Homo sapiens: one gene and its partners. The protein of the gene in region 3 interacts with the protein of the main gene of each other region in a pairwise test. Each region holds a gene or a part of one and is shown on either strand. Other genes may lie near its edges.

What was found.
Region 1: the proteins of UBE2Z (region 3) and TRIM65 interact in a two-hybrid assay, tested with the Homo sapiens proteins (one study listed by BioGRID and IntAct).
Region 2: the proteins of UBE2Z (region 3) and PLEKHA6 interact in binary tests that used the Homo sapiens proteins (3 or more experiments, as listed by UniProt).

The regions. Positions count from the first base shown.
Region 1 is NC_000017.11:75,888,302-75,893,951, reverse strand, and holds the end of TRIM65 (E3 ubiquitin-protein ligase TRIM65), read left to right. Parts: intron 1-1,101; coding exon 1,102-1,197; intron 1,198-1,412; coding exon of another isoform or gene 1,413-1,451; coding exon 1,452-1,685; intron 1,686-1,766; coding exon 1,767-1,941; coding exon of another isoform or gene 1,942-2,073; coding exon 2,074-2,139; intron 2,140-2,604; coding exon 2,605-3,173; 3' UTR 3,174-4,989; downstream 4,990-5,650. UniProt on the Homo sapiens protein: E3 ubiquitin ligase that plays a role in several processes including innate immnity, autophagy or inflammation.
Region 2 is NC_000001.11:204,356,908-204,365,023, reverse strand, and holds the start of PLEKHA6 (pleckstrin homology domain-containing family A member 6), read left to right. Parts: upstream 1-5,094; 5' UTR 5,095-5,330; intron 5,331-8,116.
Region 3 is NC_000017.11:48,918,407-48,925,406, reverse strand, and holds part of UBE2Z (ubiquitin-conjugating enzyme E2 Z), read right to left. Parts: intron 4,248-7,000; coding exon 4,135-4,247; intron 2,561-4,134; coding exon 2,470-2,560; intron 1-2,469. UniProt on the Homo sapiens protein: Catalyzes the covalent attachment of ubiquitin to other proteins. Specific substrate for UBA6, not charged with ubiquitin by UBE1. May be involved in apoptosis regulation.

The DNA of each region.
Region 1 (5,650 bases), about 27 Mb from region 3:
ACTGCTCATGGGCGGGTGCAGAAGACTGAGCTAGGCACGGAAGTTTGAGTTGGAGGCCGGTAGATGAGGGCCATGTGGAGGAAGGGAGCGACAGGGGCAGCCAGTAGCACCAGGGGAGCCAGGATTTTGCAAGAGAGAGGGAAAGGGACATGGGGGTGCCTGTCCCTGGGGGAGGGTTGGGTGCCCTGGGAGAGCCTGCCCTCCGGCCTCCTGTGTTCCTGTGTGAAATGCTGGAGGCTGGGGGCCCGGAGGAGCTCTGGGCTTAGGAAGATCTGAGGACTTTGACCAAATTATCAACTTCTCTGAGCCCGTTTCCTCCTCTGTGATGTGGGGATAGTAATGGTCCCCATCTCAGTGCATTGCGGGAGGAGCAGAAACAAGGTGGTGAAGCTTTTGACCAGGTGCTGGGAATGGAGCCCCTGGGACCTGCGTGGTTTGTCCTGCTCTCATGAGAGCACGGTGTTTTGATTCCCAAGGGACTCAGGGAGCGCAACCGAATAGGGGTCCCTTCCTCCCCTCTCAGTCTCAAAACTAGGGCCAGGGACTGGCCGGATCCCCAGAAGAATCTAGTTTATCCAGCAAGTAACTGCCCACTTGTCAGACAGCTTTGGTGCTTTGGGAGGTCCCTGCAGTCAGCTTCTCAAGCCCCAGGGCCTCCTGGGCCACTGACCCCTCTGCAGTGAGACAGGGACCAACGGCTTTAGTGTTTGGGGTCCTCCCTGCGAGGCCTCCTGAGCCAGCATTATCGCTTTCCTGTATTGATGGGTGGGGGGTTAGGCCCAGAGAGGACAGGTGCTTGGCCTCAGCTTGCTCAGCATGCAAGAGGTAGAAATGGGAATGGAAGTTGGGTCCTGAGCCCAAGGCTTCCGCTCTGCTCAGGCACCACCCTGCTGCAGATTAGGAAGGACTTTGTCTGGACCCCCCCGGGGCACGGCCCCAACTCTCCCTGGGTTAGACCGAGGCCGGTGCTCTGGAGGCTGGCCTGGGGTGGCGTGGGGAGGGGCTGCCTGGTGTCTGCAGGCATGGTTGGTTGTCTGAGAAAGGACATCACAGCCAATCCTGGCCTTCTCTTGTTGCTTGTCCCGTGGGCCCGCACCACAGGCCCAGCTGAGAGCCAGCCTGGAGGTTACCCAGCAGCAGGCCACCCAGGCCGAAGGCCAGCTACTAGAGCTGCGCAAGCAAAGCAGCCAGATCCAGGTACGAGGCCTGTGCCTGCCCGCCCACCATGGCCTCACACTGCATCCTGGGGCGGCCACCAGCTGGTCCCTGGAACACCAGGCAGCAGGGAGCGGGGCTGAGCAGGGAGCTGGGCACAGGGGTCCTGGGGAGGTTCCCGGGACCCTGCCTCCCCACATCCCTGACCCTCAGCCCAGCAGGCAGCCCTGGCCCTAGCCTCCCTTGGTATGGCACAGGGCCCTGGCCACCCTGAAGCCCCTCCTGTTCCCGCCCAGAACTCGGCCTGCATCTTGGCCTCCTGGGTCTCCGGCAAGTTCAGCAGCCTGCTACAGGCCCTGGAAATACAGCACACGACAGCACTGAGGAGCATCGAGGTGGCCAAGACGCAGGCGCTGGCACAGGCTCGAGACGAGGAGCAGCGGCTGCGGGTCCATTTGGAGGCTGTGGCTCGCCATGGCTGCAGGATCCGGGAGCTCCTGGAGCAGGTGGATGAGCAGACCTTCCTGCAGGTGCGAGGGCTCAGGGCATAGGTGGCGGACTTGCTTCCCTGCCCCTCAGGCCCAGGCTTACTTGTTCTCCCTGGGGCTCAGGAATCGCAGCTCCTCCAGCCCCCAGGGCCTCTTGGGCCACTGACCCCTCTGCAGTGGGATGAAGACCAACAGCTGGGTGACCTGAAGCAGTTGCTAAGCCGGCTGTGTGGCCTCCTCTTGGAAGAGGGGAGCCACCCTGGGGCACCAGCCAAGCCTGTGGACTTAGCCCCCGTGGGTAAGACTGACCCCAGGCCTCCCCCTGCTGTCCTGGGTCCAGCTGCCCCTCCCGCTGGGGGGGTGGAGGCGGGTCAGGGCCCACACATCGTGACCTCTCCAACCATTCCCTTAACACTGCTTTGCCCCCTAGAGGCCCCAGGTCCCCTGGCACCGGTCCCAAGCACAGTTTGTCCACTGAGGAGGAAACTCTGGCAGAGTAAGGAGGCCGTTCGTGTATGTGTGCCCCTGTGTGTGCGTGTGCAAGGAAGTGCCTGTGTGTGCTGTGAGCACGTGTGTGTGTGCATGTTCGTATGCACGTGTGAGTGAGGGGGGCACTTGTTTTGACTGTCCTGCCGGGACATCTGAGCCTGGTCCCACCCGCTGCACACCTCGTGCACATCCACCCTGAAGCAGACGCAGCCAGTGTGCGTTGAAGGACAGAGTCTGGGGCACAGACCCGTAATTCTTCCACTTAACACTGAGTTAATGGCTCTCAGAGCCCCAGTTTTCTCAGCTGTGAACGGGGCTGATAGAGGATTCCGCCTGCGAGGTCGTGGCGAGGATTAAGTGCTATGGTGACGGCCGGTGCTCAGCGTGCCTGGCGGAGGTTTAGCAGCGGATAAATGGAGATCTGGTTGTGCTGTCTTCCCCCAGCCCACTGCTGTCCTCCTTTCCCCAACAGATTATCGCAATCTGACCTTTGATCCAGTCAGCGCCAACCGTCACTTCTATCTGTCGCGCCAGGACCAGCAGGTGAAGCACTGTCGTCAGTCCCGGGGCCCAGGCGGGCCCGGCAGCTTTGAGCTCTGGCAGGTGCAATGTGCCCAGAGCTTCCAGGCCGGGCACCACTACTGGGAGGTGCGCGCGTCAGACCACTCGGTGACACTGGGCGTCTCCTACCCGCAACTGCCACGGTGCAGGCTGGGGCCCCACACAGACAACATTGGCCGGGGACCCTGCTCCTGGGGGCTCTGCGTCCAGGAGGACAGCCTCCAGGCCTGGCACAACGGGGAAGCCCAGCGCCTCCCAGGGGTGTCAGGGCGGCTCCTGGGCATGGATTTGGACCTGGCCTCAGGCTGCCTCACCTTCTACAGCCTGGAGCCCCAGACCCAGCCCCTGTACACCTTCCATGCCCTCTTCAACCAGCCCCTCACCCCCGTCTTCTGGCTCCTCGAGGGTAGGACCCTGACCCTGTGCCATCAGCCAGGGGCTGTGTTCCCTCTGGGGCCCCAGGAAGAGGTGCTCAGCTGAAGAAGGCATGGGATGGAGCCCTGGCATAGCTGCCACCATGCCTATGTGCCCAAGAGCTGCCCAGCTTCAGCTTGGGGACTGGAGGACCAGCTGTTGGCCTCTCTGTTAACTCAGAAAGAGATGGGAGGTTGGGGGAGGTGAGCATAAACGCAGAGTTCACTGTTGCAGCCTTTTTGAAGGGGACACAGTCTAGGAGGGGGATAAATGGGATGCCCTTGCCCCAGAGAGAACCCAGTTCTAGGTACTGTCTGGGCCTGGGAGGCGAGAGCAGTGCCCAGGGGACTTCTGGGCTTACAGGACAGCGTGTGTGACAAAATTCAGATCTACCTGAACTTGCCTCTGGAGATGATAAGGGCCAAAGGAGCAGTCAGGGAGGGGCGGTGAGCCAGAGTAGTCCCAGGGGGAGACAGATTCCTCCCTCCTCCCCGCCTGCAGCTCTCTTTAATTTTTTGTAACATTTGGAGAGACGTCCGTCCTGTCTTGTAGTCTTTTTATTTTGTGCATCCTTATAATTGTATTCTACAAACAATTTTGTTTTCTGCATTTAAACATTTTTGTGTTTTTAGGAGATGGTCTTGCTCTGTCACTCAGGCTGGAGTACAGTGGCACAATCATGGCTCACTGCAGCCTCGAGCTCCTGAGCTCAAAGGATCCTCCCACCTCAGCCTCCAGAGTAGCTCAGATTACAGTGTTTTCTGAAGTTTCCTGACTTAACATAAGCATTTTTCACATGATTGAAAATTTTCACTGATTGCTGTAGTCATTCTAATGACTATCAAGTTTATTTATCCATTATTGGACATTTAAATTTCTTTCTTTTTAGCTATACAAACATTGATGTGTTTTTTTTGAGACAGGATCTCCATCTGTCACCCAGGCTGGTGTGCAGGGGTGCGGTCATGGGCTCATGGGATTCTCCTACCTCAGCCTCCTGAGTAGCTGGGATTACAGGTGTATGCCACCACGCCTGGCTTATGATGAATATTTCTGAGTGGGATGTTTGGCCACATTTATGGTCATGTATGTAGGCTGTTACCTCAAGTGAGTCACTCAGGGAACAATGAGCACTTGAAGATTTTTTTATACAAAAGGCCACAGTGAGGCCACCTTGAGTCAAGCCGACTAAGGCCCCTCAACCCTGTCACTAAGCAGCACGTGACACTGGCAGGACCTTCATCTCCAGCATCCCACCCCTGGGTGTGGGACTTTGGGGCAGCCGTGTGTGCAGGTGTCGGCACAGGCTAGCTCCTCCTGGTTTGGTGTGGTGTTTGCCATTGCAGAGCAAGCTGCCACGAAGACCCCTGGGCATGATTTTGCTTGTATTTCCGGAAGTGGGGTTGCTGGGTCATAGGGCAGGTGTAATTTTTTTTACTTGAAATGTTCCACTTCTTGTTCTGGGAGGTGGTTCCAAGGGTGTCTGCTTTTGGCCAGGCGCAGTGGCTCACGCTTGTAATCCCAGCACTTTGGGAGGCCGAGGCAGGCGGATCACAAGGTCAGGAGTTCGAGACCAGCCTGGCCAACAAGGCAAAACCCCGTCTCTACTAAAAATACAAAAATTAGCCGGGCATGGTGGTGTGCGCCTGTAATCCCAGCTACTGGGGAGGCTGAGGCAGAAGAATCGCTTGAACCCAGGAGGTGAGGTTGCAGTGAGCTGAGATTGCACCACTGGACTACAGCCTGGGTGACAGAGCGAGACTCTGTCTCAAAAAAAAAAAAAAAAAGGGAGGGCTGTCTGCTTTTTGTAACTTGAAAAACTGGACATCTATGTTATATGTACTCATGGATAAATATTTCACAATAAAACTTTTTAAAAGGATAATACGTGTAATATACATACCCCCAATATATATAATGTTTTTATATTTGTAAAAAAAAAAAACCTCCCACGACGACCCCACCCCGATCACTGCCGTCATTGCAGCCTCCATCTTGTGGCCCTGCTCCTAGCCTGTGGCTGTTTGTTCAAGAGCAGGGCAGGGCCTTGGATTGGCACAGCCCAGGCAAGGACTTTCCAGCAAGATCCTCAGGTGGGAGCTCCCCAGACATGGGAAGGGAATCTGACATGTGCAGCCCCACAGCCAGGAGGCGGGCAGGACCTTGCTGACCAGCTAGGGGCAATGGTGGGAGCTGAAAGCCCAGCCAGGCAGGATGTATTGGCCTGGCCAGATGGCTGTCATTGCTGTCCCCACCTCATAGTCCCTCCTAATCCAAGGCTGCAGCAGAAGCACCCAACGGGCTGAGCCGCGCTCTGAAAGGGGCAGAGAGAGGAAGAGTTGGCCCCTTTCTGCTTCTGAGGTGGGAGGTGTTTGGGGTCATTTATTATGTGAAATTCATCTTCCTATTGGGTGGTGGTTCTTTCTATATTCTGCGAGCGTGTTCTATATTATTAATAATAACCCCTTTTTCTTTCTTTCTTTTTTTTTTTTGAGACAGAGTCTTGCTCTGTCGCCCAGGCTGGAGTACAATAGCGTGATCTC
Region 2 (8,116 bases), on a different chromosome or scaffold from region 3:
TGCCCACCTGAGAACACTTGTTCTTCCTTCAAGCCCTGCCCATGATGTCACTTCTTCAGGGATGTGTCCGTGTATGGTAGTTATTTGCTTATACTTGTGTCATTTTCCACTAGATTAGTAACTCTCCAACTGGAGCGTGTATCACAATCACTGGAGGGTTTGTTGGAGCACAGATGGCTGGGCCCTACCCCTAGAGTTTCGGATTCAGAGGGTCTAGAATTTGCACTTCCAACACATTCTCAGGTTATGCTGCTGTGGCTGCTCTGGGGCCCACACTTCGAGAACCAGTAGCCTAGACTGAAAACTCATCAAGGGCAGGGGCAACACAGGGGGGTCGTAAAGTCCGGAGACACAGGCAATATTGTTTAATTATCAACCAGCCATGAATTCTGTGTTCACATACATTTCCAGACCTGGTGGTCATTCTGTATATCATAGCAGCAGCCGCCACTCTAGGAGCTAAGTGCTTTATGACATTATCTCATTTATTCCTCACCGCACCTTTATGAGGAGGTTCTATCATCCCGCTTTTAGCAAATAATGGGAAAACTGGTTCTTCGTATGTATTACTCAATGTCACAAAGCTTGTATTAATAGAAAGCAAGCGGGAAGGCGGCCTCATGTGTGCCTGATTTCACAGGCTTTGCTCTTAGCATGATGGCACGGCTGCTTCCCAGCATCCTTGGCACCTTGCTTGGACAAACGAAGTGCTCAGTAAGTTCTTGCTGAATGAGTGAGTGAATGAATGAACGACTGGCTCACCGTTCGTTCCTATTTTCACAGTTCCCACAAAGGTTTATGACATTTGGTTGGTGGATGAGTTAGAAACTCAAACGACTTCAGACATGGATTCCAAGTAATAATAAGAGCCAGACAACCGGAGGAGTTATTTTGTTTCTTTTAGTGTGGATGAGGGAGGGAAATTTCAATGAGCAAATATTGACATTTGCCCAGGAGCAGACAAATGTGTTAATTGTGTGTCAAAAAGCTCTTTCTTTCAGGGTATTTAGGAAGTGACTCTCATGGTATCCACAACAGACGTTTTGCTCGAGTGTGCGTGTGGTTTTGAAGGTGTCATTTACTGGGAAGAGTGGTGGGAGGAGGAGAGAACAAGCGAAAGGTTAAAACGTGGGAGAAACGCACTGCAAGCCTGTATGCACTTACCGCAAGAATCCACAAGAGGGCTCCAGAGCACACATGATGGCCCCACAAGGCTTTCAGGGGGTTTGCTCACAGCGTCTCCCCAGGCTGAAGGCGCCTTCTCGGAGGTGACAGGGCCACCTTTCCCATCCCCTGCCACCTCCCAGCCATAGTGGGTCTGGTAGCTGTCTTTCTGATGCTTAAAGATCTAGCTATGTAACACCCATTCCTGCCCAACAGGAAGTGTTCCCCCGCCCCCTTGTCTCCCTCCTCCGCGTTCCTGCGGAAGCCGCCGCCGGTGAAACTGGCCAGTTCTGTCCCCAAGGGTGCCTCTCTCCTTCCCCAAGGTTGACAGGGAGGGAGACGTGGCAGGACGCTTTCTGCAGAGCCACACCCCTGATAACCCGGTTCCCAAGCTGGGCCCCTGCGGCTCCTCCACCGAGGGAACCCCACCCAGCCGTTGGTCTTCCTTGTTCTGTTCTGGAAGCTTCCTCCAGGAAGGTGCGAGAATGTGCAGGCAGGCAGTCCACCCACGGCCCTGGCGCGCCTACGGGCTGCTCAGCGCTTCTTGAGGGGTTGCAGGGAGGCAGAGATCAGAAGCCCAGGTCTCTGCCCCGCGTGCTTCCAGGCTGGGCAGTGAGACCCCGGTGAGCCTCCAAGGCTGTGCTGGGTCTCTGGGATTCATCAGTACAGACCCCAACCCGAACTGCGAGACCCCGGAGGAGGGGCCCTGGGAGGGGCGGGGGAGCCACCAAAAGCAGTTCTGTTGTCTCCAGAAGGCAGACAGGACAGAGCACAGGAGTGCTGGGGCAGCAGTTCTGGTACAGTGACCCCACTAGCTCTAGGCTTAGAAAGGCAGATAACACCCCAGAACAGTAAAGAAGGAGGCGGCCGAGGAGAAAAGGTAGTGAATGTGCTGGGCTTCAAAGAAGCCCATTTGCAGGTGAGGAAAACAGGCTGGATAGTCAAGTAATTTGTTCAGTCAGTGAGTTACTCAGGGATGGAGCTGGGCTTCCAAGTCACACAGGTTATCGTTAGCCAGGCATGGTGGCTCACACCTGTAAGTCCCAGCAACTCAGTAGGCTGAGGCAGGAGGATTGCTTGAGCCTGGGAGATGGAGACCAATCTGGGCAACATAGCAAGACTCTGTCTGTAAAACAAACTAAAAAATTAGCTGCATGTGGTGGTGTGTACCTGCAGTACCAGCTACTTGGGAGGCTGAGGAGGGAGGATTGCTAAAGCCCAGGTAGAGGTGGAGGCTGCAGTGAGCTAGTTCATCCCACGGAGCTCCCTTTGCTGCCCCTAGTTGGCATGTTCTGCGAGGAAGAGAGACCCATGTGGATGCAGTTCCACTGAATGGGCAGTGAGCCAGTCAAGTTAGTGGCCACCAAGACTGTATGGTAGGGAGTGGGGATGGCACCAGAAAGGTGGGGAGGACCCGTGTGTTTGGAGACCATGAGTAGGTGCCTGGGAAGCTTGGACTTGATCCTCTGAGCAATGGGGACCAGTGATTGTAGAGCAGAGGAGAGACGGGATCGCAGAGGTGCTTTCTGTGGAATCCTCCCTCCCTCACGCCACCTCACGCCTTCCCCATTGGAGTTGTTTAGGTGAGGCTTGCTTCTCCTCTTCTGGGCTCGCAGAGCAAGAACTTAGATTTGGCAAAGGGAATTTATTATCTCTGGTCCATCCGCCTCACCTGTCCTTGCTGTAGCTCTAAGATCTTCATGCTACCACATCTCTTCCGCCTTGGTCCCCCAGCTAAAGGCATGCACCCCACACCGACCCTCCCTTTGGCTTCTCATGCCCCTGAAGCTACTCAGATCCCCCAGAAACATTCACATGTCTGGCTCAGGCTTCTCGAAGGATCCGTGGGACTCGTCTGCGGCCCTTGCCCTCTGCCTGCCAGAGAGGAAACCCGCCCAGCAGGCCCATCTGTTGGTCGCCTGCCTTTTCCAGCTGCCTGAGGATTGTGGGGGCTTGGGCTGGGGTCTCTGTCCCCCTCCCCGGCCTCCCTCTGGGATGCTGTAATCTCTTGCCTCCACTCCTTTCCTCCACTGGCTCCGCAGGGTCAGAGACCCCCAAGAGCCCCTCATCTTGGCTGACTGAAAGCAGACTCTCCCCCTGCCTGCACCTGGCAGCCTTGCCAAGTCCTGGAGAGCCAGGGCAGGTGAGTTGGGCTTGATCGGTCCTGCCTGGCACTGGGCCCTCATCCACAACTTGTCTGCCCCTTCAGCAGAGCAGCTTTCCTATAGCCAATGCAGGGCTGGCCTGACATCTCAGCTGGGCAGGGGAACAGTGGGAGGTGACCAAGAGTCCCCCTCCCCAAGAGTGCTGCTGAGCTGCGCCTGCTGCCCTAACCCCAGATTCCTGGCTCCAGCCTGGCCTGCCCTGGGGTGGGAAAGACAGTCCCTTCAGTAGCTCTCTAGGTCCCTGTCTTCCTCCAATGCTGTGGTGTGTGTGAGTGGGGTGTGGAGCCACAGCCTTCACACCAACCAGCCAGGTTCCTCCCAGGCCCTGGGAGGGAAGTCTGTGCTCCTGTTCCTTCCGTTGCACATTCCTTTACAGATAAGGGCTTCAGTTGGTAAAAATGATATATGTACTCAGATCACACTAAGAGAGACCCACTTGTATTGGAGTCAAGAGGCTTAATTTTTTGATCAAGTTGTTCTAATAATAAACAAAAAATGCAATCACCAGGTGAGTGGGGCCTTGCAGACACCCTTTCTCTAGCTCCTGCTTCTTGACATATTTCTCTATTCAGAAGTGACTCCAGAAGCTCATCTGGTTCAGTCCCCAGTTTCCAGGTTTAAGGGGCAGATGGGACTGAGACCAGCGAGCCTGCCTGGAGGTTGAGGTGGGAATCTTTTGGTTTTTTCCATCTTTCTGATCCTGTTTATGAAATCAGTGTTTTTATTACACTTGCCCATTGTCACAGAGAATCCGTGGATAGAGGAAAACTGAGAGAGATGTGGATAAAGGGAAACTGAGGCAGAAAGCAATCTTTGTCTAAGCAGAAACAGAGCTACGACCCTATTGTCTGAAGTCCTTCCTTCTGCCTCTGATCCTGAATAATACAGAACCCAGGTACCCCGTAGCTTGGCTAGCATCCTTGCTCAGGGTTATCAAGACCGATTTGGGCAGGAGCTAGAGAAAGGGTTTCTGCAAGGCCCCACTCACCTGATAATTGCATTTTTTGTTTATTATTAGAACAACTTGATTAAAAAATTAAGCCTCTCGACTCCAATACAAGTGGGTCTGTCTTAGTGTGATCTGAGTACCTATATCATTTTTACCAACTGAAGCCCTTATCTGTAAAGGAATGTGCAACGGAAGGAACAGGAGCACAGACTTCCCTCCCAGGGCCTGGGAGGAGCCTGGCTGGTTGGTGTGGGGGCAGTGGCTCCACAACCCACTCACACCCCACTCATCCTGGCATCTCATAGTGGCCCCCAACCCTCTCCAAATGTTATTTCTCTAAATTCACCATATTGGGGGGGGGGCGGGGGATGGGGAGGCCCCAGGGCCCCAGCCAAGCCCTCTTGACACCTAGAGACGTGCCCCTCTCTGGAGTAGACAGCCACAGAGGTGAAAGGTGATCACCAGGCTGGCTGGGTGAGGCCCCACACATGATTCTAAGACCCTGGGCAGTTTCTGGCTCCCTGCAGTCTCTTGTGGGGGACTCTAAAAATGCAGCTTACCCAGACGGTGGCCCTGCTCCCCTTTGGGGGGCAGCCTTCTCCTGGTGGTGGAAGGCCCAGGAGGCTGTGCTGAGCCACCCCATCCTCTCCCGGGCAGGCAGGCTGCGTGGATGGTTAGCAGCTTGTCGCTGGTGTGGATGGAGTTAAACCTTTTCGGGGACTATTTACTCCTGATCCTAAGTGACAGCTTGGGGAGGGAGAGTCACGTGGCCCTGAAATCCCCGGGGGAGCCGATGGAGCATGCCCAGCTGCCTCTGCCTGGGAAAGATGCTGGATCCTGCAGTAACCACAACAGCATCCTCTCCCTGCGCCAGGGACCTGCCAGCCGGAGAGATGACTGATTAGATCAGATTAGATCCGGAGCCCCGCTCTGCAGAAGGGGGCCCCAGGGGCGGGGGAGGAGGACCCCAGCTGGCCTGAGCTGGGGGGAGGGGTGCCTTGGGGCTCGCAGAGTTAGAGCTTTCCAGCGCGGGGATCACACCTCAGAAGCCGGTGAGTCTGTTTTCATGCATCACATAGATGAGGTGGGAGGAGGAAGGCTGGGCTCTGGTCAGGGCTGGCAGCTGCCTGTCTGCCGCGTGAGCCTGGGCTGCTTGCACTGCGGAGCACTGGCTTCCCCATCTCTCATCCTTGGCAGCCTTACTTGGGGATCATGGATGCTGAGAATGCTAATTATAGCCCTCCCTGTGCCCCCACCCCCACCTCCAGAGTCCCCTGTCAGGGCTGATGCTGTTTAAATTGATTACATTTGAATTGCATCTCCTGGATGAAGGCAGCGTTGGGGCTGGCAGCTTCCTAGGGTCCAGCAGGGGTCCCCCACGCAAGCTAGCACAGAGAGGCCAGCCCACCCTCCCTTTAATCTTGCCAGCAGGAAGGAGAGAGGGAGGGGGTCCAGGGTCAGGCTCAGGTCAGCCCCAGGGACTCACCTTCCTCAGCGTGGGGAGGGGTCAGGGTGTGTATCATTCTTATGAGTCAGAGGTTGGGTCGAAGGGTGACAGAGGCTCTTGGATTCCAATTCCTAGGACGCATCTGAGCTCTGGGGGTCTCAGATTTAGTGGGGAGCTCTTGAAGGAGCTGGAGCCTGGTATGTGGTAGAGGAGGGCAGGGAATGAGGGGATGGCATTTATAATGATGGGACCAGGCTGCAGCCAGCTAAGAGCCTCGAGGTATTGTGTGAGGAGTCTGAGGAAAGGAGGACAGTTGGGGGACTGGCCAGAGAAGGGTAAGGAGGGCTACAGTGGAAGGGGAGGGAAGCGGGGCGAGACAGGAAAGTGGCGGGGGTGGGGGAGAAGGGAGAAGAAGGGAGAAGAGGCTCCTGGGAAATGCTCTTTGAGACAACAGGCCAGCCAGGGCAGGGAAGGGGGCTGTGGAGCCTGGGAGAGCAGAGATGGAGAACCGGGATAGAGGGAGAGCCATCCCCGGGGCACAGGGGTGGGGAGGGAGAGCTGCAGGAGGGTGGAAGGTGGTGGGGAGGAGGCTGGAGCTCAGAGCTGGTGTCAGAGGAGGTTGCAGCCTTCAGGGATTGGAGGCTCTTCCCAAAGCCCTGTAGACCCTTTACCCTCAATCTGATCACTTGAGTGGTGCACTCTGCTGAGGGTCTCCTGCATGGTGGGGCAGGGTCCTGGCTGGCAGGTATCTGCCTGAGCCCACTGTCTGGGCAGGTGCGGGGGCACTGCGGGCACTTGCCCTACAAATCTCCCAAATCCTGTTTTCCAGGCCACCCTGGAAGAGTATGAAACTGAGGAGGGCTCCTGTGGCTAGGACGGTTCAGTCGCCAGCTTTCACCCCCGAGCAGCTGCATTTTAGCTTCAGCAGGACATGAGCAGACCCTGCTGGTGGAGGGGAGGTGGGAGCGGCTAGGCTCTGGCCTGTCTCCAGGTTGGGGTGGCAGGAGGGGCTGAAGGCACCCCTCCTGGCACTGCCACTGGGCTTTCCTTATGGAAACAAGCGAGTTTCTGTGTCTTTGCACAAGGGCACAGAGTGCCGAGCCACAGATATGAATTATTAAAAGTCATTGGTTTTCCAATCAGCGGCGAGGTGATAAATGTGTTAGCACTGGTGTGTAATTAATCCTGGCAGGCTGCTGCACACAGGCTGCAGACAATGGGGGTCCCCACCTGCTTTTTTTTTGCTGGGCTAGGCTTCTTTTCCTCCTTCCTAGGAAGGTGATGGTGCAGGACGCCTTACACAGATAATTACTTTGAATGTGTCTGCCTGGATTATTGAGTTGGATTATTTCTGCTTGTAAATGAAATAATTACTGATCCCTCAGTCAGTGAGGGAGGCAGCCACCTTGGCTCCCGGGCTGACATCAGAGCCCCCACCTCGCCCAGACCCAGCCTGCAGCCTCGGGCTCATAGAGCGAGCTCTCTTGGCCCAGGGGACTGGCCTAGGCCAGAGTGAAGAAGCCGCAACAGCAGATGGGAGCGTGGTGTCAACTGGTGCTGAACAGGCTGCGGTTCCGTTCTCCGAGCCAATTTCCTCATCGTCTTCCTCACTGCCTGTTGTGAATTTGATGAGGTCATTGGCACTGGTCTTGGCGCACCCATGGGGCCCCCCAGAGGAAGGTTGGAGCTGTGCCTCACAAAAGAGCTGCAGGATTCGCACTCCCCTGAGCTCTGGGGTGAGGCGAACGGGCTCAGGAAGCCAGGGCTTAATGAGGGGACTTGAGCAGGCCAGTCTCCAAACACTTAAAGCACATTCAGAGAGGAAAAAAAGACTATATTTTGGGAGACATTTAGAGTAACTGGGAGCAGAAGGAAAAGAAGTTGAGGGTAGGCTGAGTGGAAGCCTTCCCTTGACCATCTGTCTGTTCAGGGGGCTCCTGCTCAGCACCTACAACCTTCAGACGCCCCTCAGAGACTATCTAGTCCAGACTCCCTCCACATCCAGATGAGCCTTCCTCAGCCTCCCTGACAGAAGCAGCAGCCTCACTTGGATAATTTCAGTGACAGGGAGCTCATTACCTCACAAGGCAGCTTCCTCTGTGGCTGGAACATTCTTCTATGTTGAATCAAAATCTGCCGACTTCTAAGTTCCACCCTCTGGTTCTGATTCTTTGAAGCTGTGCAGAACAAGTCACCTCTCTCTTTTACGTGGTCATAAAAATAGTTTTCTTTTGATTAAAATAGTATATAATAGTCCGTGTGTGGATGTAATATATTTTACATGATCATTTCTATATTGGACATTTAGGTTGTTACCTTATTTTCCTTTTACAGATAGCACAAGAGGAACATTTTTGTTCATAAGGCTCTTTCTGTGTTTTGGGTGACTTA
Region 3 (7,000 bases):
CTCCTACGCTGTTGGTGTTGGGGTGGGTGAACAGACATAGTACGAGAGCTGGAGAGAGCCTTAAGAAATCTTAGTCAATTATCCAAGTCTCCCATTTCTTTTTCTTTCTTTTTTTTTTTTTTTTTGAGGTGGAGTCTGGCTCCATCGCCAAGGCTAGAGTGCAACGTGATCTCGGGTCACTGCAACCTTCACCTCCCAGGTTCAAGCAAAATTCTTGTGCCTCAGTCTCCTAAGTAGCTGGGACCACAGGCACGCACCACTACATCTGGCTAATTTTTGTATTTTTAGTAGAGGCAGGATTTCACTGTGTTGGCCAGGCTGGTCTCAAACTCCTGATCTCAAGTGATCTGTCTGCCTCGGCCTACCAAAGTACTGGGATCACAGGCATGAGCCATTGCGCCAGGCCCCACGAGTATCCCATTTCTAAGCAAGACCACCAGTAAGATGATCCAAACACCCAAGAACTGATTCTCCAGGACAGGAGAATTCTCATTCTCTTACCAACCAGGTGGTTTACATTAGTCTATCTATAATTTTTGTCTTTTTTTTTTTTTTTTTTTTGAGACAGAATCTTGTTCTGTTGCCCAGGCTGGAGTGCAGTAGTGCAATCTCAGTTTACTGCAACCTCTGCCTCCCAGGTTCAAGCATTTCTCATCCCTCAGCTTCCCAAGTAGCTGAGATTACAGGCATGAGCCATCATGCCTGGCTAATTTTTGTATTTTTAGTAGAGATGGGGTTTCACCATGTTGGCCAGGCTGGTCTTGGACTCCTGGCCTCAAGAGATCTGTCCACCTCTGCCTCCCAAAGTGCTGGGATTATAGGCATAAGCCACCGCACCTGGCTGTCTATCTACAATTTGGTCAATGATAGCCTCCTTCCTTAAAACAAGCCTAAATTTTGAGTTCTTATGGGAAGCAAAAGCACACTTTTCCCAGTAGAGGCAAAGAATGAACAATGGTTATCATCTTTGAATAGGAATCTTTCAACATGTGACACTACAGGTATGTTGTTTCTCTAAGCTACTGTTTCTGTGATCAACCCTCAGGGCTGGGAACAGAATTTAAATAGAGGATTCATATAATCCCTAAGATTCTGGGAGGGCTGAACGCATCTTAGCTTCAAAACACTATGGGCTGGGTGCAGTGGCTCACACCTGTAATAATCTCAGCCTCCCAGTTTGGAGGCTAAGGGAGGAGGATCACCTGAACCCAGGAGTTGCCTGGGCAATAGAGTGGGACCCTATCTCTACAACCAAACAAAACAAAACAGGGCCTGTAATCCCAGCACTTTGGGAGGCCGAGGGAGGTAGATCACTTGAGGTGAGGAGTTCAAGACTAGCCTGGCCAACATGGTGAAACCCCGTCTCTACTAAAAACACAAAAAATTAGCTGGGCATGATGGCGTATGCCTGTAATCCCAACTACTTGGGAGGCTGAAGTTGCAATGAGCTGAGATTGCTCTAGCCTGAGCAACAGAGCAAGACTCTGTCTCAAAAAACAAAACAAAACAAAAACTAGCTGTGGTGGTGCACACCTGTAAGTCCCAGCTTGGGAGGCTGAGGTGGGAGGACTGCTTGAGCTTGGGAGTTTGGAGTTGCAGTGAGCTGTGACCCAGCTACTGCACTCCAGCCTGAGTAACAGAGTGAGAACCTGCCTTTAAAAAAAAAAAAAAAAGAGGCTACTGACCAAGGAAAGTAAAGAGTTCCCTATGACTTCATGAAAATCAGTCTCCTCTCTGGCTCTCAGTCCCTCAAATGATATAGGTTGCTTTTAGCTTTTTTTTTTGAGACCGAGTTTCGCTCTTGTTGCCCAGACTGGAGTGCACTCAGCTCACTGCAACCTCGGCCTCCCAGGTTCAAGCGATTCTCCTGCCTCAGCCTCCCAAGTAGCCGGGATTATAGGCACATGCTACCACGCTGAGCCAATTTTTTGTGTTTTTAGTAGAGGCGGGGTTTCATCATGTTGGCCAGGCTGGTCTCACACTCCCGACCTCAGGTGATCTGCCCACCTCAGCCTCCCAAAGTGCTGGGATTACAGGCGTGAGCCACCGCGCCTGGCTATTTTTTTTTTTTTTTTTTTTTTTTTTTGAGACAGAGTCTCGGTCTGTTGTCCAGGCTGAAGTGCAGTGGCACAATTTCAGCTCACTGCAACTTCTGCCTCCTGGGTTCAAGTGATTCTCCTGCCTCAGCCTCCTGAGTAGATGGGACTACAGGTACACGCCACGATGCCCGGCTAATTTTTTGTATTTTTAGTAGAGACGGGGTTTCACCGTGTTAGCCAGGATGGTCTCAATTTCCCGACCTCGTGATCCGCCCGCCTTGGCCTCCCAAAGTGCTGGGATTACAGGCATGAGCCACTGAACCCAGGCTTAGCTGTGTCATTCTATGACAGCTGTCGATGCCACGCTTGTGGGGGGCTTTTACATGGCCAGCTGTAGGGCTTCTGCAATTAGCAGCAGGGGTTGTATTACCTGCATAGTTTGGCCTTGAAGGTGCAGGCGATCTTTGCAGGCCACCTCGTAGAAGTCGTAATACTCCAGAAAGGACTTCTCCATCACCCCTCTGGAAAACAAGCAGAAAAGTGTAAGTGAGAAACCCAGGGGTACAGGTCACCCCTTCCTTACCTAACCTTTTTTTTTTTTCAGATGGAGTCTTGCTCTGTAGCCCATGTTGGAGTGCAGTGGTGCAACCTCAGCTCACTGTGACCTCTGCCTCCCGGATTCATGCAATTCTCCTGCCTCAGCCTCCTGAGAAGCTGGGATTACAGGCATATGCCACCACGCCTGGCTAATTTTTGTTTTTAGTAGAGACGGGGTTTCACCATGTTGCCCAGGCTGGTCAGGAACTCCTGACCTCAACTGATCTGCCTGCGTCGGCCTCCCAAAGTGCTAGGACTACAGGCGCAAGCCACCACACCTGGCCTCTTTACCTAACCTTAATGCCAAATTAAATACCTACCATTCCCAAGTCCAGATCTGTTTTCTACAAAGATCTTTTCATTTTATTTATTTTTTATTTTTTTGAGACTGAGTCTCGCTCTTTTGCCCAGGCTGGAATACAGTGGCGCAATCTCGGCTCACTGCAACCTCCGCCTCCCAGGTTCAAGTGATTCTCATGCTTCAGCCTCCTGAGTAGCTGGGATTACAGGTGCGTGCCACCACACCCGGGTAATTTTTGTATTTTTAGTAAAGATGTGGTTTCACCATGTTGGTCAGGCTGGTCTTGAACTCCTGACCTGGTGATCTGCCTTCCTTGGCCTCCCAAAGTGCTGGGATTACAGTTCCTTTTGGAAAAAGGAACACCTAACTGCCCGTGGTTGACTTCCCCTACACATCAGGAATTATGAGTGTGACTGTAATATTCACCATTAGTTTTCTTTTTGAGGCAGGGTCTTGCTGTGTTACCCAGGCTGGAGTGCAGTGGTGTCATCACAGCTCACTGCAGCCTCAACCTCTTAGGCTCAAGCAATCCTCCCACCTCAGCCTCCTGACTGGCTGTGACTGCAGGAGCGTGCCATCACACCTGGCTAATTTTAAAATTTCTGTAGAGATGGGGTCTCCCTGTGTTGCCCAGGCTGGTCTCGAACTCTTGGGCTCAAGTGATCCTCCCGCCTCAGCCTCCCAAAGTACTAGGATTACAGGCGTGAGCCACCACCAAGCCAATACTCACCATTTGAATCCCAACTTCAACTCATGACTTGCTCCACCTCCATTGCTTTTCATCAGCCATCCCCAATCCCAAACCTTACTCAAAATTCTCCTAGAAGTTTATTTATTTAACCCTGACGTTGCTCATCCAGTTTTGGCACTTAAAAATAACTTCAGCACTAAGAAATGAGTCTTATTATGAAGTACTCTACACATTTGGCTGGAAAAAAGTACGTCCAAGCCTTCATCAAACTGGAAGCTCCCTGAGCGTGTGGACTGCCTCTCCCAAAGGCATGGCATTCTCCAACAACAGAGTAGCTCTCTGAACTTCCTCTTGGGTAACCCTCAGCCACTTGTTCTTTAAAAGCAGGAACCACATCTTTCCTTCTTCTCTATCTCCCTCTGGTACCCAACACTGTACTCTGCCCCAAAGATGCCAACTACCCAAATGCCCGAAAGGAATACCAAGCAAGCCCGCTTGACACATACCGTAGGGGTTCAGGACAGGGACACTTTCCTTCCATCATGTCACAGACTGCAACTCTGATGGTCTCGTGCCGGATACATTCATTATAGTTTTTGCTGTCTCCTGGATGTCTCTCCTATAATGTAACAGATGCCAGAGTATTCCAAAAATTAAGCAAAAAGAAAACCAATGGGAAGGGACTTCAAGATTAGTATGGGGTATGTCAGCCAGTCACACAAACTAAAAAGATACCTTTCCCACTGTATGGCAGATCCATGAAGAGCAACCACACCTTTATTTTTGACACCATTCACCTCCACCACCCTCCAAATATACCAACAGGTTACAGGTCATTTGGCCTATCACCAGCAAACTAGATCCATCATATTTTCCTGAATGTGAAGTGAAAGGTCTATCAAGTAAAGATTATGTGGGAAATAACCAAACATAAGAATGATGGTAGGGTTGCTAAGCCTGGTGGCATAAACTAATAGTCCCAGCTACTCAGGAAGCCAAGGTGTGAGGATCACTTGAGCCCAAGAGTTTGGGTTCAGCCTAGACAACAAAGTAAGTTCCTGTTTTTTCAGTTTTTCTTTTTGGAGACAGGGTCTTTGCTGTTGCCCAGGCTGGAGTGCAGCGGCACCATCACAGCTAACTGCAGCCTTGACTTCCTGGGCTCCAGCAATCCTCAAACTCCTGGGCTCTAGCGATCCTCCCACCTCAGCCTCCTGAGTAGCTGGGACTAAAGACATTCGTCACCATGGTGGGCCCCGAGTTTTTATTTTTTATTATTTATTTGTTTTTTTGAGTTTTGCTCGTCACCCAGGCTGGAGTGCAATGGCACGATCTCAGCTCACTGCAACCTCCGCCTCCTGGGTTCAAGCGATTCTCCTGTCTCAAGCCTTCCAAGTAGCTGGGATTACAGGCGCCTGTCACCACGCCCAGCTAGTTTTTGTATTTTTTAGTAGAGACAGTGTTTCACCACGTTGGCCAGGCTGGTCCTGAACGCCTGACCTCAGGTAATCCACCTGCCTCAGCCTTCCAAAGCGCTGGGATTACAGGCATGAGCCACCGCACCCGGCTTGTCTTTTATTTAAAAAATTTTTAAGAGGCAGGCTCTTGCTTTGTCATCCAGGCTGGAGAGTGGTGGCATGATCAGAGGTTACTGCTGCCTCGAATTCCTGGGCTCAAGCGATGCTCCTCTCCTCAGCTTCCCAAGTAGCTGGGACTCAAGGCACATGTCACAATGCCCAGCTATTTTTTTAAAAAAGTTTTTCGGTAGAGACAAGGTCTCACTACGTTGCCCAGGCTGGGAAACACTTGTCTCTTTAGGGGGAGAAAAAAAAAAGACAGAAAGAATGATGGTGGGACAAAAAGGTATAAATGAAGTGAAGAGTCTCAGTGTAGAAAACCTTCAGGCATCAACAAGTAAAGGATGCTTCCTGGTTAACCCCTTTACCTGTTATATGTCTCTAGGGTCCCACCATCATTGAACCAATTATTATAAATCAGAAGTAGGGCTGGGCCCGATGGCTCATGCCTGTACTCCCGACACTTTGGGAAGCCGATGCAGGCGGATCGCTTGAGTTCAGGAGTTCAGGATCAGCATTGGCAACATGGTGAGATCCCGTCTCTATAAAAAATACAAAAATTAGCTGGGCATTGGTGGTGTGCACCTGTCGTCCCAGCTACTCAGAAGGCTGAGGTGAGAGGATGGCTAAAGCCCAGGAGTTCGAGGCTTCAGTGAGCTATGACTGTGCCACTGTACTCCAGCCTGGGTGACAAAGCAAGACTTTGTCTCAAAGAAATAGTACAATTAGAAATAAATCTATCAGAAGCTTCGAAAGATAAACTTCAACTTTGGTCTAGAAAGCCAATATAAACAGGGTCTCACTATGGTGTGAATAGAAGGGGAGTATGGCCTCTACTCCTTTAATTTTTCCTGTGCTCTTCTCCTCTTACCACCAACCCCAGTCAATTAGAGCCCTGGCCTCTGATAAAAATAGCTGATGGGCCAGGCGCGGTAGCTCACACCTGTAATCCCAGCACTTTGGGAGGCCGAGGCAGGTGGATCATAAGGTCAGGAGGTGGAGACCAGCCTGGCCAAAACAGTGAAACCCCGTCTCTACTAAAAATACAAAAATCAGCTGGGTGTGGTGGTGTGTGCCTGTAAATAAATAAAAAATAAATAAATAAATAAAATAAAAACAACTGCAAGTCATTCTGGAAGTAAAAAATAAAAAACACAAGGCTGGGCATGGTGGCTCACACCTGTAATCCCAGCACTTTGGGAGGCGGACGTGGGCAGACTGCTTGAGGCCATATGTTCAAGACAAGCCTGGCCAACAGGGCGAAACCCCATCTCTACTACAAATACAAAAATTAGCCAGGCGTCATGGTGTGTGCCTGTAATCCCAGCTACTTGGGAGGCTGAGGTACTAGAATCGCTTGAACCTGGGAGGCAGAGGTTGCAGTGAGCTGAGATCACACCACTGCACTCCAGCCTGGGTGACAGAGTGAGAGTCTGCCTCCAAAAAAAAAAAAAAAAAGACAAGACCTAAAAATCAGCTCCTGCTAATGAGGTCTATTTCAATTAGACTCTCCTCCTGAAATGAATGTTTGGAGAAAGGATGGGTTAGGAAATAATTTTTGTTAACTTTTGAGGCCAGACTCTGTGGCTCACACCTGTGATCCTACCACTTTGTGAGGCCGAGGCAGGCTGATCACCTAAGGTCAGGAGTTCAAGACCAGCTGGCCAACATGGTGAAACGCCACCTCTACTAAAAATACAAAAATTAGCCAGGCGTGGTGGTGTGCGCCTGTAGTCCCAGCTACTCAGGAGGCTGAGGCAGGAGAATTGCTTGACCCTGGGAGGTGGAGGCTGCAGTG